Linked DNA regions of Homo sapiens. The protein of the gene in region 2 purifies or fractionates together with the protein of the main gene of each other region. This does not show direct contact. Each region holds a gene or a part of one and is shown on either strand. Other genes may lie near its edges. The genes, in order: HECTD1 and ZNF215.

Evidence for each region.
Region 1: the proteins of ZNF215 (region 2) and HECTD1 purify together in Homo sapiens (co-immunoprecipitation; 2 studies listed by BioGRID and IntAct, with this or other methods). This does not show direct contact.

Annotation. Positions count from the first base shown.
Region 1 is NC_000014.9:31,206,199-31,210,107, forward strand, and holds the start of HECTD1 (E3 ubiquitin-protein ligase HECTD1), read right to left. Parts: upstream 1,596-3,909; 5' UTR 818-1,595; intron 1-817. UniProt on the Homo sapiens protein: E3 ubiquitin-protein ligase which accepts ubiquitin from an E2 ubiquitin-conjugating enzyme in the form of a thioester and then directly transfers the ubiquitin to targeted substrates.
Region 2 is NC_000011.10:6,950,207-6,954,115, forward strand, and holds part of ZNF215 (zinc finger protein 215), read left to right. Parts: intron 1-3,909. UniProt on the Homo sapiens protein: May be involved in transcriptional regulation.

The DNA.
Region 1 (3,909 bases), on a different chromosome or scaffold from region 2:
GTATATAAGCTGATTAGGTTGCTGCTTAACTAGAAACCAGAGCTGTCTGTGTCAAAGACAGTCAGTCAAGCTTCAGGTCCCACTACTGCTATCACTAAAGTCTATGCCAAAAGGCAAAGAACACCTAACTAAAGGTTCTGTTTTTTCCAGCAAACTTCATCCCCCTCCTTCTCTACCCAAAACTGATCTTCAGATAAGGGTTAGATTCAGTATTTTGAGGAAACTCTAAACACCTTGATCCAATCCCCCTCCAAATTGTTTCTCCTTCAAAATTACCTCCAATTTCACATATTCTGCTGACTTCTCAATTTACTTCTATTTTAAAGATATCCAAATACAAACGACAATTATATACAAGATTTATCTATGAATAAAGAGTTGGTTAGGAATTTTGGCAGTCTTGGCAACTATTCTTAAAAGTTAAAAAAATAAAAAAATTAAAAAAGGAAAGGCTAAAAGTAAATGCAATGGACCAGCAGGTTACGGATCCGAACGAATGTAGGCCAACCTAGGGCCCTCTTTCCCCAGCTTCACAAGATAGGGCAGTTGGTTAAAAAAACAAAAACAAAACCGAGAAGCAACCCCAACAGGTAAGTCATTACAAAAGCGCCCCGTAAGCGCCCTGACTGGAGGACAGCTTTGGGTCCCACGTAACGCAGCCGCAAGTGTGGGAAGCCGGCGGCGGGGCGCGGTGGGCACCCAACGGCGGCGACCAGCGGGGTTGACCCCACACCCGGGGCCCGGCCGAGCCGGGCGCTGAGAGGCGCTGGCCCCCGCGCTGTGGTTCCCCAGCACCAAACCCCGCTAAGTTAACTACCTGTGTCTACGAGGAAGGGAAGTTCTGGAGAAGCAGCAGCAAGCCTTCGTGCCCGAGAGGAGGCCGCCGGGCCAGGCAGGGCGCCGGCTCTCCCGGGAGCTGCGCCCGGAACTCGAAGGCCTGGCAGCGAACCCTTCTCAAGGGCAAAAGGAGCCGGCCTGAGGCTCTGGCGCGGGCAACCGGGCCCCGCCGCCGGCAGGGCCCCGGGAGGGGAACAAAGGGGCCAGCGGGGAAGTCGGCAGCAGCCTGGCCGACCTCACTCGGCGCCGGGGTCTCGCTTTCCGCCACTCGCCGGGCGTCCGGGATCCGCGCCCCCACGCAGGGCCCTTCCGACGGTCCGAGGCGCTCCCGCCTCCCCTTCCCGCAGGCTCTTACTCGGGCTTGTCGTTCCAAACCGCTCCGATCCAGCTCCCAACAGGCCGCCGGCAGAGCCAGGCCCGGCCGCGGCCCTAGAGTTCCCAAGAAGCCGCAGGCCGCGCAGGTCGAACCGGGCAGGCGGCACAGGAAAAGCCGCGCCTCGTCCCTCCCCTTCCTCCGCGAGGACCTGGTGACAGGGAAGCGAGAGGTTCTCGCGTGCGGCAGCAGCCAGCGGACGTCCAGTCCCCAGCACGCGGCTCCTCAGGCCCTGCAACTCAGAGGCCCGCGCGGTGCTGCGGGCGACGGCGGCGGCGGCGCGGCGGGGAGGCCCAGTCCATCGCGAACCGGGAGGGGGAGGGGAGGAGGGTCGAGGGAGAGCCAGGCGGGGAAGCTGCCGAGGGCAGCCGAGCCCGGCGGAGGCGGAGCAAATCCACTCCCCCGGCGGCGACCCCGCCGGCGGCCACCTGGGGCGCTGCGGGACGGCCGACCGCCGCGCAGGGGCGCCAAACCGGGTACGCCGCGTCGCCGTCCCTGCCCCGGAGCTCTCGCCCCCGCCGCCTCGGGCTGTGTCGTACGTTTCTGCCGCGGCTTTTCTATGGTGCGCCCTGGCCCCCTTTTCGCTTCCCTGTCAGTCCGAGCGCGCTCATGCACGCACGTCCAGCTTGCTTGGCGCCGTGGCTAACACTTTGCGCGCTCCTGCGGAGGGCGTCGCACGGCACAGCACAGCAAAGCTGCGGCCCAACCTGTCCCCGCTGAGCCTTCCGCCCAGGCCACCCGCACTCAGCCACGATCTTCCCTCCTCGCGCACGGAAGTGCGTCGCGTAAGGAAGGCGTCTCCCCCCGCTCCTGGGAGGCCGACCGCCTGGCGGTTCACCCCAAAGAAAACCCTTCAGAGCAACCCTGGGAAAGAGGTGCTGCCGACGATTATCAACGTTGTACAGATGAGACACTGAGGCTCCAGGAAAGCGCAAATGCAGGCCCAGCGCCGTGCCCGGTCGGCAGCAGCACTGAGAGTGCACTTTTGACTACGTTTCTTGTGGCTTGTGGTCACAAGTATGTCTGTGGTTATTCTTTTCAAACTTTATTTCACACGCATTCAGAATAAAGGATGCATGCTTATAGGACGTAGTTGGAGCCCGGAGACGTCCTACTGTACTCTCACTTTCAGCTTTTAAACAAAAAGAAAAATTAATACGACATGATAGTGTTTGAGACATGGTCCCTCAGGCAACCAGAGGAGCTGCTAGGTATGAGTAAAGAACAGAATTTGGGTCCGCTGCGTTTCCTGTAATCCCAGCACTTTATGATTTTACTCTCTTGAGGCCCGGAGTTCGAGACCAGCCTGAGCAACATAGACCTGGTCTCTGCAAAAAAATTAAAATTTAAAAAATAATTACCCAGATGCGGTGACGCACACCTATGGTCCCAGCTACTGGAGCGGTTGAGATGGGATGATCCCTCGAGCCCAAGAAATTGAGGCTGCAGTGAGCTTTGATAATGCCACCTCACTCCAGCCTGGGCGACTAAGCAAATTTGTCATTTCCAAAATACTGGTTCTTTTTTTTCTTTCTTTTTTACTACTTCTTTAGAAAAAGAACCAGTATTTTGGAAATGACAAATTTGTACTTCAGATAGCTATCCGCGCATGTCCCGTTGTCGCAGGTAATGGTCCGTTTAGGTATCCTGTTAACGAAACAAGAGGAAAAAGAGGATTCAACTATTTTGTCCCAAGTACAACACATGAGGATAATTATTTAGATGTCATGAGTGTGAATTGGAGCTGCCAGGAAACTTCAAGAAGGAAGTGGCATTCCCTCTGGACCTTGAAGAATGGGTACAATGTAGACACTGAAAGGAAAGGGAAGAACATAAAGCCTGATATGTTCCTAGACATAGGAAAGGTCACCTGTGCCCCCAGCAAAGAACCAACAGTAAGCAACAGAGAGAGAAATTTGGAGCTAAAGTGGGGAAGGCCTTGAATGAGGAATGCAGAAATTAGGCTGAGCTAAGTAGCAAGTTCTGGACTACAACACTGGAAAAACTAGTCTTAAGAAGACTAATTATGGAAAGTGTCTAGAACGACTAAAAGGATCTATCTAGACGAGACTAGCTGGAGGTTGTCGAAATGCTGCAATAATGGAGGAAAGAAAAGTCTAGTTATTGGCAATATGAATGGGGAAGAAATCTAAAAATAATTTTTGAAAGAAGATATATCAGAATTTAAATGATTAACTTAAAAATTTCCGTCCAGGCTCCATGGCTCACACCCGTAATCCCAGCACTTTGGGAGGCAGAGGCAGGGGGATCACTTGAGCCCAGGAGTAGGAGACCAGCCTAGGCAACATAGGGAGACCCTGTCTCTACAAATAATTTTTAAAATTAGCTGGGTGTGGTGGTGCACACCTGTAGTCCCAGCTACTCAGGAGTCAAAGGCAGGAGGATCACCTGAGCCCTCGAGGTCGAAGCTGCAGTGAGCCATGATCATGCCACTGCACTACAGCCTGGGCAATAGAGCAAGACCCTGCCAAAACAAAAAACAAAAACCCTTAACGTAGAAAGAGGACTTGGAAGCTAGGAAAATGGTGATGCTATTAACAAAAAATAGAAAAGTTAGAAAAAGGGATTATACCTTTACCAAGTTTTTTGTTGTTTTTTTTTTTTTTTTTTTGAGACGGAGTCTCGTTCTGTTGCCCAGGCTGGAGTGCAGTGGCATAATCTCGGCTCACTGCAAGCTC
Region 2 (3,909 bases):
GCGATGGGGCTCTTTTTTGGTTCCATATGAACTTTAAAGTAGTTTTTTCCAATTCTGTGAAGAAAGTCATTGGTAGCTTGATGGGGATGGCATTGAATCTATAAATTACCTTGGGCAGTATGGCCATTTTCACGATATTGATTCTTCCTACCCATGAGCATGGAATGTTCTTCCATTTGTTTGTATCCTCTTTAATTTCATTGAGCAGTGGTTTGTAGTTCTCCTTGAAGAGGTCCTTCACGTCCCTTGTAAAGTGGATTCCTAGGTATTTTATTCTCTTTGAAGCAATTGTGAATGGGAGTTCACTCATGATTTGGTTCTCTGTTTGTCTGTTATTGGTGTATAAGAATGCTTGTGATTTTTGTACATTGATTTTGTATCCTGAGACTTTGCTGAAGTTGCTTATCAGCTTAAGGAGATTTTGGGCTGAGACGATGGGGTTTTCTAGATATACAATCATGTCATCTGCAAACAGGGACAATTTGACTTCCTCTTTTCCTAATTGAATACCCTTTATTTCCTTCTCCTGCCTGATTGCCCTGGCCAGAACTTCCAACACTATGTTGAATAGGAGTGGTGAGAGAGGGCATCCCTGTCTTGTGCCAATTTTCAAAGGCAATGCTTCCAGTTTTTGTCCATTCAGTATGATATTGGCTGTGGGTTTGTCATAAATAGCTCTTATTATTTTGAGATACGTCCCATCAATACCTAATTTATTGAGAGTTTTTAGCATGAAGGGTTGTTGAATTTTGTCCAAGGCCTTTTCTGCATCTATTGAGATAATCATGTGGTTTTTGTCTTTGGTTCTGTTTATATGCTGGATTACATTTATTGATTTGCGTATATTGAACCAGCCTTGCATACCAGGGATGAAGCCCACTTGATCATGGTGGATAAGCTTTTTCATGTGCTGCTGGATTTGCTTTGCCAGTATTTTATTGAGGATTTTTGCATCAATGTTCATCAAGGATATTGGTCTAAAATTCTCTTTTTTTGTTGTGTCTCTGCCAGGCTTTGGTATCAGGATGATGCTGGCCTCATAAAATGAGTTAGGGAGGATTCCCTCTTTTTCTATTGATTGGAATAGTTTCAGAAGGAATGGTACCAGTTCCTCCTTGTACCTCTGGTAGAATTCGGCTGTGAATCCATCTGGTCCTGGACTCTTTTTGGTTGGTAAGCTATTGATTGTTGCCATAATTTCAGAGCCTGTTATTGGTCTGTTCAGAGATTCAGCTTCTTCCTTGTTTAGTCTTGGGAGGGTGTATGTGTCGAGGAATTTATCCATTTCTTCTAGATTTTCTAGTTTATTTGCATAGAGGTGTTTGTAGTATTCTCTGATGGTAGTTTGTATTTCTGTGGGATCGGTGGTGATATCTCCTTTATCATTTTTTATTGAGTCTATCAGAGTCTTCTCTGTTTTCTTCTGTATTAGTCTTGCTAGTGATCTATCAATTTTGTTGATCCTTTCAAAAAACCAGCTCCTGGATTCATTAATTTTTTGAAGGGTTTTTTGTGTCTCTATTTCCTTCAGTTCTGCTCTGATTTTAGTTATTTCTTGCCTTCTGCTAGCTTTTGAATGCATTTGCTCTTGCTTTTCTAGTTCTTTTAATTGTGATGTTAGGGTGTCAATTTTGGATCTTTCCTGCTTTCTCTTGTGGGCATTTAGTGCTATAAATTTCCCTCTACACACTGCTTTGAATGTGTCCCAGAGATTCTGGTATGTTGTGTCTTTGTTCTCACTGGTTTCAAAGAACATCTTTATTTCTGCCTTCATTTCGTTATGCACCCAGTAGTCATTCAGGAGCAGGTTGTTTAGTTTCCATGTAGTTGAGTGGTTTTGAGTGAGTTTCTTAACCCTGAGTTCTAGTTTGATTGCACTGTGGTCTGAGGGACAGTTTGTTATAATTTCTATTCTTTTACATTTGCTGAGGAGAGCTTTACTTCCAAGTATGTGGTCAGTTTTGGAATAGGTGTGGTGTGGTGCTGAAAAAAATGTACATTCTGTTGATTTGGGCTGGAGAGTTCTGTAGATGTCTATTAGGTCTGCTTGGTGCAGAGCTGAGTTCAATTCCTGGGTATCCTTGTTAATTTTCTGTCTTGTTGATCTATCTAATGTTGACAGTAGGGTGTTGAAGTCTCCCATTATTATTGTGTGGGAGTCTAAGTCTCTTTGTAGGTCACTCAGGACTTGCTTTATGAATCTGGGTGCTCCTGTATTGGGTGCATATATATTTAGGATAGTTAGCTCTTCTTGTTGAATTGATCCTTTTACCATTATGTAATGGCCTTCTTTGTCTCTTTTGATCTTTGTTGGTTTAAAGTCTGTTTTATCAGAGACTAGGATTGCAACCCCTACCTTTTTTTGTTTTCCATTTGCTCGGTAGATCTTCCTCCATCCTTTTATTTTGAGCCTATGTGTGTCTCTGCACATGAGATGGGTTTCCTGAATACAGCACACTGATGGGTCTTGACTCTTTATCCAATTTGCCAGTCCGTGTCTTTTAATTGGAGCATTTAGTCCATTTACATGTAAAGTTAATATTGTTATGTGTGAGTTTGATCCTATCATTATGATGTTAGCTGGTTATTTTGCTGGTTAGTTGATGCAGTTTCTTCGTAGCCTCGATGGTCTTTACAATTTGGCATGATTTTGCAGTGGCTGGTACCGGTTGTTCCTTTCCATGTTTAGTGCTTCCTTCAGGAGCTCTTTTAGGGCAGGCCTGGTGGTGACAAAATCTCTCAGCATTTGCTTGTCTGTGAAGTATTTTATTTCTCCTTCACGTATGAAGCTTAGTTTGGCTGGATATGAAATTCTGGTTTGAAAATTCTTTTGTTTAAGAATGTTGAATATTGGCCCCCACTCTCTTCTGGCTTGTAGAGTTTCTGCCAAGAGATCCGCTGTTAGTCTGATGGGCTTCCCTTTGTGGGTAACCCGACCTTTCTCTCTGGCTGCCCTTAACATTTTTTCCTTCATTTCAACTTTGGTGAATCTGACAATTGTATGTCTTGGAGTTGCTCTTCTCAAGGAGTATGTTTGTGGCATTCTCTGTATTTCCTGAATCTGAATGTTGGCCTGCCTTGCTAGATTGGGAAAGTTCTCCTGGAAAATGTCTTGCAGAGTGTTTTCTAACTTGGTTCCATTTTCCCCGTCACTTTCAGATACACCAATCAGACGTAGATTTGGTCTCTTCACATAGTCCCATATTTCTTGGAGGCTTTGTTTGTTTCTTTTTATTCTTTTTTCTCTAAACCTCCTTTCTTGCTTCATTTCATTCATTTCATCTTCCATCACTGATACCCTTTCTTCCAGTTGATCGCATCAGCTCCTGAGGCTTCTGCATTCTTCACATAGTTCTCGAGCCTTGGTTTTCAGCTCCATCAGCTACTCTAAGCACTTCTCTGTATTGGTTATTCTAGTTATACATTTGTCTAAAATTTTTTCAAAGTTTTCACCTTCTTTGCCTTTGGTTTGAATTTCCTCCTGTAGCTTGAAGTAGTTTGATCATCTGAAGCCTTCTTCTCTCAACTCGTCAAAGTCATTCTCCGTCCGGCTTTGTTCCGTTGCTTGTGAGGAACTGCGTTCCTTTGGAGGAGGAGAGGCACTCTGCTCTTTAGAGTTTCCAGTTTTTCTGCTCTGTTTTTTCCCCATCTTGGTGGTTTTATCTACTTTTAGTCTTTGATGATGGTGATGTACAGATGGGTTTTTGGTGTGGATGTCCTTTCTGTTTGTTAGTTTTCCTTCTAACAGACAGGACCCTCAGCTGCAGGTCTGTTGGAGTTTGCTAGAGGTCCACTCCAGACCCTGTTTGCCTGGGTACCAGCAATGGTGGCTGCAGAACAGCGGATTTTTGTGAACCAGAATGCTGCTGTCTGATCGTTTCTCTGGAAGTTTTGTCTCAGAGGAATACC